Regions from separate parts of the Homo sapiens genome. Here region 1 is linked to region 2. Evidence: fine-mapped expression QTL. A gene starts in region 2. The other region holds a variant in brackets. All regions are shown on one strand. Distances are between the middles of the regions.

What was found. PIP is the estimated chance that this variant, and not a neighbour inherited with it, causes the effect.
Region 1: its variant is the best candidate, but not a certain one, in a credible set for the expression of CCDC15 in whole blood (TOPMed, PIP 0.57).

Annotation. Positions count from the first base shown.
Region 1 is chr11:125,065,011-125,069,412 of GRCh38, reverse strand. All of the region lies in intron 1 of SLC37A2 (solute carrier family 37 member 2), which reads right to left. Among named protein-coding and RNA genes, the nearest start is that of SLC37A2, 3.9 kb to the right of the region's middle. The variant A/T (reference allele first, on the strand shown) is at 1,861.
Region 2 is chr11:124,952,538-124,956,939 of GRCh38, reverse strand. CCDC15 (coiled-coil domain containing 15) reads right to left here and starts at 2,738. Exons shown (of 16, transcript NM_025004.3): 1 at 2,570-2,738; 2 at 2,031-2,216. The coding sequence starts at 2,207. CCDC15-DT (CCDC15 divergent transcript) reads left to right here and starts at 2,949. Exons shown (of 3, transcript XR_948134.3): 1 at 2,949-3,458. RefSeq lists an enhancer at 2,535-3,078.

The DNA of each region.
Region 1 (4,402 bases), 110 kb before region 2:
AGCCTGGGAGATGTTAAGTAATTTGTCCAAGGCCAAATGGCCATGTAATCTTTTCCCCACCCAACACTATCATTAGGAAGGCAGCGGAAAGACCATGGGCTTACGAGTCAGACTAATCTTGATTCCAACTCCAGCTCAGTCATTTATCAGCTGTGTGGTGCTGGACAGGCTTACATAACTGCTCTGTGCCTCATTACACTCATATGTTCCACAGGGAAGCTAACATTCACCTTGCAGTTCCACAAAAATTACAAATAAACAATGCCTGGCACAAAGTAGTAGGAAAAACAAATAGAATATAGTCAATCATTAGTGTTTACTCAGTGTTTCATATCAGCCTGGCACTGACCTAAGTACCTTACACGTAGTACCTCATTTAAACCTCAAAACACTCGTGTGATACAGGTATTATTATTATCCTCATTTTACAGAGGAGGAGTCCAAGGCCCAGGGCCAGTCCACTTTCAGCTTCCTATTCTGTCTTCTTCACTTCTTAAATGCCCTCCTTGGGGACATGTGAAAGCAGTTAAATGTGACAGAGATTTGATTTCTCATTTTCAGACTATAAGTCTTTATTTTTATTTGTCTGCACCCTGGCCTGTATTTTGTTTAGCACAAGAAAGGTGAATTGGGTTAATATGTATCTGTAATAATAACATCACCATCATTAATAATGATAGTAAAAGCCGCCATGTATTCCATGCTTCCTGTATACCAGGCAATGTATACATATAATCTCTAACCTTTTATGTGTTAAGTGCTCAGCAAGTCAGTTTTCTTCAAAATCTCCCCAACCGACTTCTGCATTCCCCTCGCTGGTCCTCTGAATGACATGGCACATAGGAAATGCCATCCTTTGGCACTCAATAAGTAGAGCAGGGCCTTCTAAAATTGCTGACTGTGTGTACACAGCCCCTCTCCAGCTTGATTCTTAGTTCCAAGAAGGTAGAACCCTGTCTTGATTGTCTTTGCAGGCCTCAGAGCTCAGCATAATAATGTACTTACAGAAGAACTACGTGACATTTAGTGTTTGATAGGAATCCAAATCTAAACTTATCTGGAAGGAAGTAAAAGGATACCTGTTGAGTACCCTCCAGCAGCCACAAGACGTCAAGAATGTTTCCTTATATTATCGCATTTATCCTCAAGAACCCATCTGACTTTTATTGATGAGGAAACTGGGGCTCAGCAAAGTCAAGGCTCACAGTGGTGAAAGGATTTCAACCAAGGTCTGTCATAAATCCCAGAGATGTTGGGGAATACCGTAGCTGAATTCACACCTTGAGAAGTGTGAAAGTGAAGAGTGTTGGAGGCTGGAGAAAGTCATGTTATGCGTATTACTGAGCCCTTCTAGAATGCCAATGTGTTCTAGATGGTTTATAATGATCCACCCTCCCCACTCCCCATTCTCTCTGAAATGTTAGTTACTTTGGTTAAAAGATATAACTAATATACATGAATGAGACTCTACTAGGAACAATCGTGGCAGAGAGGTATGACTTTGTATACATGGTATTGAAACCTGTTTTTGTTTATTAAAAGGAAAAATATTACACATAAGAAAAATGACTGGTTGTTCCAGAATAAGAAAGGGAACAGGGAAGGTCAAATCTGAATGGATACATTTTAGGTTTGTAGAAAGGAAATTTGATTTGTCTTGGATTATAGTACATCAAACAATAAGTCTAAAAATAAGCAATTAAATGTGTTAAAATTTTGCCAAAGTTGGCAAAATCTTGATAAGTTTGTGAATATTTAATTTAAAAAGAGGAAGGGCTCCTGGAAAACCACAAAGATTTGTTCTTTCATCTTTTAAAAAGAGAGGTGCTAGAAATCATTAGATTTATTTAATATGTTAAT[A/T]TTGATCAATTGCTTGGAAATAATTGTCAAGTCAGAAGAGATGCTCAGCCTTCTCTAGGTTAAATTTATATTGGTAAAATATTATTATTTATCTAAATATTTGAGAAATTATATGCTATAAAAGAGTTGTGCAGACTTCTCAATGCCCTCTCTGTACATGACATGTTTCTATTTATCAGCACCCTGATGGTGCCTTCCCCGATAACAACAGTATACGTGTTACTAGTCACGATTTCAATTATTATTTAAAATGTTACTGGAGGCTGGGCATGGTGGCTCATGTCTGCAATCCTGGTGCTTTGGGAGGATGAGGTGGGAGGATGAGGTAGGAGGATGGCTTTAGGCCAGGAGTTTGAGACCAGCCTGGGCAACATAGCAAGACCCTGTCTCTACAAAAATAAAAAACTTAGCTGGGTGTGGTGGTGCATGCCTGTAGTATCAGCTACTTAGGAGGCTCAGGCAAGAGGATCCCTTGAGCCCAGGAGTTTGAGGCTGCAGTGAGCTATGATCGTGCCACTGCACTACAATCTGGGTGATAGAGCAAGACTTTGTCTCGAAAAAATAAAATAAAATAAAATAAAATAAAATAGTTACTAGGCTGCAACTTTCCTTCTTTAATTTAAATGTAGCATCTTCCAGGCCACTGGTTTTCAACTGGAGATGTACATCAGCCTTTCCTTTGCAGTTTTATTAAAATACAGATATTTAGAACTTATGTTAAGCTTACTGAATATCTTTAGTTGATATTCTTGGCATTTTATGTAAATTATATCCCAGAATTTTTATATATTATATCTTAAAATTTTTTCTCTGTAAAAATCATGTTCATTTTTATAAATTAATATGTTCATTGTGTTTTTTGAAATTAACCTTATATTTTTAGACGTTGTCTAGATTTTTTCTGTTTGGATTAACATCTTTTTGTTTTGCACACCACAGAAGCAACCAAATTTCCTTGTCAGTTGCATTATTCTTGTCATGAATTCTCATCAGATCATTCATTCTTGAAAATTATCAGTAAGAAGTTAATCAACAATTTTTAAGTCTCTGTCACCTACAGATAGTTTTTATTTTACTTTGATGCTTCTTAAAGGCTCTGTAATCAGTTATAGAATAGAGTGGGAGATTTTTGTTTTTTGAGAGATGGGATCTTACTGTGTTGCCCAGACTGGAGTGCACTGGCTTTTCACAGGCATGATCATGGTGCACTACAGTCCCACACTATTGGGCTTAAGGGATCCTCCCACCTCAGCCTCTTGAGTAGCTGGGACTGTAAGCATGCCACTGGGCCTGGCAGGCCAGAGTTTTTATCTTTAACAACCAAATACTGTCTCAGAAAAGCACTGTACTGAGTAATTGCTCTTGGATATAAGTTTCTGATGGAACTACTTAGACAACATTAAGAACGTACTAGTGGACTGAGTCAGGAGTTCCAGAACTCTTTAGTCAAGAAGCAGATAGGTTTTTGAGATTGCTAACCCAAGATTCAGCGGGACAGAATTAATCACACAGGACCGCATGAACTGGGGATGGATGACTGTCTTCTATGTTCAGAATACTGTTGATGTTGATATAGTGTTCTATTTTCTGGACATATAAGGAAGACCTTTCTCTTTCTTCTTAGGCTATATTAACCCATAAGAACTTAGTAGATTCTGCTTTCATAAACTGAAATGAAACACTTATAAATATCTTTTTCTCCCTACCTGACTCCTCAGAATTCAGAAACTCTTATGGAATCTTCTTGCTTTTCATGGAAGTATGGTTATTTGCACAGGTTCAGTAAGAATTTTTTTTTTACCAGTACATAATTAGAAAAATTGGTTATGCAACCAAGACCTTGCCGGGATGTTGTATTTGATCAGGATGCCTATTTAATCAGATACAACCAGCCTCCTCTAAAAACTGAGGTTCACTCTATGCAGCCAATACTAAGAAAAACCTCCCAAGAAAATGGGCTTACTGGGTTTCCAGGTTTACAAGCCAAAAGGAAGGTCACTCTCTGGCTAGCCCAGAAACTTTAGGATATTATGGGGACCCTGAGAAGAGGAATTTGCCCAAATACATCAGTACAGTAGGTAAAACCTGGTGAAGACAGTTTCTTGACTCGGCTTACTAATGTCAGGACAATAAATAATTAAAGGCTTTAAAAAATCTAATCTAGGATTCCTTATGAAAACTTCCAGCTAAGTTTATTAACTTAACAAGGGGTATATGGTAAACTAACACACTTGCAGCCACAATCAAGTCAAATCCAATGAGATCAGCTTTATTTTGTGATCAAGAATAATCCTTCTAAGAATTTTCTTAAAAATCAAAACAGGAGAGACTGTAGAAAAACAATGTATTTCCGTGGAAAACTATGCCTTGTCTAGCACATAGTCCGCCAGGTTATCAGATTCCAGCTTTTAATTGACCTTGAGCTATTTTAAAATTCTTTGAAGTGGTAGGTAACTGAGAAGCCATGCAAAATATACCTATGAAGATAATTTCAGTAGTCTTCCCTCACAACCTGTAGAAGACCAATTTGGTCTCAATATTC
Region 2 (4,402 bases):
CTGAAATTTTGGGGAGAAAAATGAGTAGAAGTTCCCCTTTAGAACAGACATGATCTAAGGGCCAAGCTTTAGAAGTAACTATTCAGCATTTATTTTGAGCTGACAGAGCTATATCCGTTAATAAGGGTGGATACCCAGACTAGATATGCTAAAGCTATAAGGAGTTCTATTAGATGCTTGATCAAACTCCCTTTGGCTGGAACTGATCAGAAATTTTTAAATCAGGAAAAGGAGATATGTTTATCCATGTTCCAAGACTTTAATATTTTGAGTTAATGTGTGTGAATACGATAGTCAATACTTCTTAACATAGAAAAAGTTTGATGGTGTCAAATTTTAGGCATGTTGACACTACTGATATTATACAGATGTAATTTGAGCAATTACAAAGAGGTGTCAACAACTTAAATACCAAAATATCTTTATACCAAATCTTACCAAGTCTTGTGGGGTGTTTCCTGCATTCATCCCTTCTCATTCCACTCCTTTTTTTTTTCCAGAGATGGGGTCTCACTCTATTGCCCAGGCTAGAGTGCAGTAGTATGATCATAGTTCACTGCAGCCTACAATTCGTGGGCTCAAGCACTTCAATCATCCTTTTTCAAGGCTGTTCTTCTCTATTTCTTACCACTAACAAAGTTTCGATGCTATACTCCATGCTTAAATTATTATAATTATATTCTAATTTATCCCCAGGATCCAATCACTCCCTATCCTTCAAAACCTTTGAAGCAATTCATCTAAAGAAAACACTGGTTGATCATGACATTCACCTGTAAATATTAAACAAAGTCAATCCCTTCTCCAAAATTTCCTAAGGTACTCTACCATCCCTATTTTCCATAATCCTGTCAGCAACCATTCTCCTACTAAGCTTTCCACTCCAATCGATCTAATCTACCCTTAGAATCCTGAACCTTGCTTACTTCTTACTCTCCTCATTCTCCTTAATAGGAGAATCATTCCCTTCCCTTCTCCGATCAAATTCTTCATTACACTTTCCTGGGTCACATCAACCCAACGTCATAGCTTCTTGATTGAGCATTATATTCTTAGAACTTAGATAGAGATACCACCTAGACTCTTAAAATCCTTTTTGGAAATAGGCAGGGTAGGAATAAATCAATGAATATACATACATATGTGCAAACATAAATAAAATGAATATAGTATATTGCATTACTTTAACATTTAAACACATCTCATTTCTCTTCTGAGATCAAGTACACTGAGGGAACATATCTCATCCTTTTTTCATCCATGTTCAGCACCTTGTCTACACATACAGAAGACATTTTGTGCCTTTCATAAATACTTCATGAGTGTCTATATTGATTAGGCAGTATTTAAGATAAAAGTGGGAATGTGATGATAAATGACATTTGTTCTCTACGCTCAAGGAGCTCACACTGCATCAGGAAAAGATATATAAACAATCTACTATAACACAATGTGGTAAGTGCCAAGTTAAATTTGAACAAATAGCTAAGGGGCACAGTTTGGTGAAAGACTATCAGAAACCATGGAATTTCTAGTTAGACTTTCTCAGATTATCAGAGTTCATCTCTTTCTCCTTTATTCTATTACTCCATTTTGCCTGAATCCTCATTACAAAATTTATCATAAACCTTAAGCAACCAATTAATGTTACTTGAAGTATGCCAACTATCATCCATACTAAGTTGCAGTGTCTGGAAGATGTAGATAGTGCTTATGTCTTGGGCATAACAAGCAATCAAGAGTCTGAAGTAAACTGATATACAGATATATATCTATATAACCTGTTCCATGTAGATTATGCTCTATATATTATAGTAGGTGAGTAATAAATATTTGATTATGCCAACTAAAGCTGCAGTCAAGTTTTGGCAAATACTTGTTCTATAATCCTAATGCAAGAGCATAAACTATTTATGGCAGAATAGAAACAGCATCCTCGGACTGTTCATCTTTAAGCACCCAGGATTAGAGAAGGCTAATAAAAAGGGTGGTGGGGAACCCCACCATATTTGGATCAAACTGACACTCACATATGCTGGGATTTCCGAACTACCTGGTGAGGCAGGTTCCACCCATGCCCCAACTGGTACTATAGCCTCGTTCCTCTCAGCCAGCACTGCCAACACGTCCTTGCTCTTCAGGGGGTTTAAAGCCAGGGGCAACCTTGAGGTATTTCGAGGTTTCTTTCGGGCCATACTTCCCAGCATCTGTGACTCCTGATTAGGAGAAAGAAAAAGCTTAAAATCTTCAAATGACTGCATTAAAAGTTCAACCTCCTAACACATGAGCCACAGGCCCGTGAAAAGGAGAGAAGCCCTGGAGGCAGAAGCCTGGCATGAAGTGGAAACACACGGATTCTAGAGAAAAAGGAAGAAAAGAAGGGAAGAGAAATGGGAAGAAATAAAGAGGCAAAGAAAGGTTTTTAAGTTGCCTTCTAGAAGAAATGGCGATGAGAGGGAAGAGAAAGGATGGGAATGAGAGAACGAAGACTGTCCTCAGCTGTGGGCGCAGCGAGGCGGGAAGGGAGGAATGACAGCTGCAACCCGGAGAAAGAGGGAGGGGCGGGGACCTGTGTCTGCAGCCGAGAGTCCCAATAATCGGTATAGGTTATGGGAAGACGCGCTGAACGGCTGGGAGCCTCGGGCCAGATAAAAGCCTGCTTCTGAGGCCCCGAGGCCTGCTCCGGCTGAGATGGCACTGGCCAGGAATCGGCCCGCAGCTCGCCACAGACTCAGTCTACTCGGAGTACTAAGGTAACCGCCTCAAGTAGACCGCCACTTTGCGGTGGGCTGCTCCGTCCCGCCCATCCGTAGCCTTATGCCCGCCCTTTCCGGAGCCCGCGTCCCCTCCCGGAGCTGGGAAGGCGTGAGAGGTGGAGTTTCGAGCGCCCGAGGTATCGTCATTTCCTCTTCCTGTCCGGCTGAGGGGGCGGGGACGTGTGGGTAAGCGGAGTCGCTGGGTAATGCGCCATGTGAGGCGCGGTGGGACTGTCGTTCCTGGACCAACGCCGAGACTTCCTAAATCCCTCCGGAAAGGGATGCGTTGGGCCTGTGATCTGGCGACTAGGAGGGTCAGGAGTCCCAGTAGAGGGAATCACGGGAAAAGAATGAAAGAGGGAGGCGAGCCTGGCACGGCTTCCTGGAGAAACAAACTAAGCTAACAAATTTTTCGGATCCTTTGTGCAGCTAATTTTACAGTACTGTTTCATACATCTTATTATATTTGGACATCACGGCCTGTTGAGTGGTCTCCCTCTCTGCTGCAAGCTCTGCTGTAATCCAGAGACACTCAATTATCTCTGTAGGATAATTTATTCATTCGATTAACATACATTACTACTAACTTTTTATAAACCAGTACTGTTCCAAGCACCGGAGATACATAGCTATGAACGAAACAAATATCCCTGCTCAGGGAATTCACAATAGAGTGAGGGGAAATAAGCGAATAAACAATGAGTAAGTAAATGTGTGTGATGTGGAGTAAAAGCAAAGAAAGCGGATAGGGAGTGTGGTGGGCAGGGTGGGGATTGGAGGGATGAAATATTAGAACGTCCAGAGAAGCTGCACTGAGATACTTTTCAGCAAAGACTTAAATGAGTTAATGGAAGAAGCCACTGTGCTCTTCAACGGAGGCTTTATAAACATGTTCCAGATATAACAGCAAGTATAAACGCCCCAAGGTGGAAGCATTGCCTGGTTGAGAAAAAGTCAGGAGGATAGTGTGACTGGAGCAGAGGGAGAGTGGAAGAATGCTGAGACAGTAGGTCAAGCAGGCAATCCGATCAAACATCGTAAGCCACCATAGGTGTTGAGATGGGGAGCCACTGGAGCAAGGTTTGGAGCAAAGGAACACCATAATGTGACAAAATTAAAAAAATAATAATTCCGAATGCTGTAGTGAGAATAGACTGTAAAGAAGACCAATTAGGTGGCTATTGCAATAATTCAGTTAAGGGATTGTGATGTCTTGGATCAAGGAGGTAGTGGTGGAGATGATGATAAGTGGTTGGATTCTGTATCTATTTGGGAGGCAAAACTTTCAGGATCTGTTGAAGGTTTGGATATGGATTGTGTGAGGGAGAGATGTCAAGGAAAACTAGGGGTTTCATCCTGAGCAGCTGTCAGGATGAAATTACTATTTACTGAGATAGTGAAGATGGTGGAAGGAGTAGATTTGGAAAGGGGAAGATCAGGAGTTCAGTTTGGGGCAGATAAAGTTTTATCTAATCAACATCCGAGAAGATAGTATGAGAAAAAGTGTCTGGAGCTCAGAGAAGGGTTCTGGGCTACAAATATAAATCTAAGAGTCGTTAGCCTGTAGATTTAAAGCCATGAGACTGGATGGAGTCATCAAGGGGTTGAATATAGACAGATAAAAGAATAAATCCTAAAACAGCCCC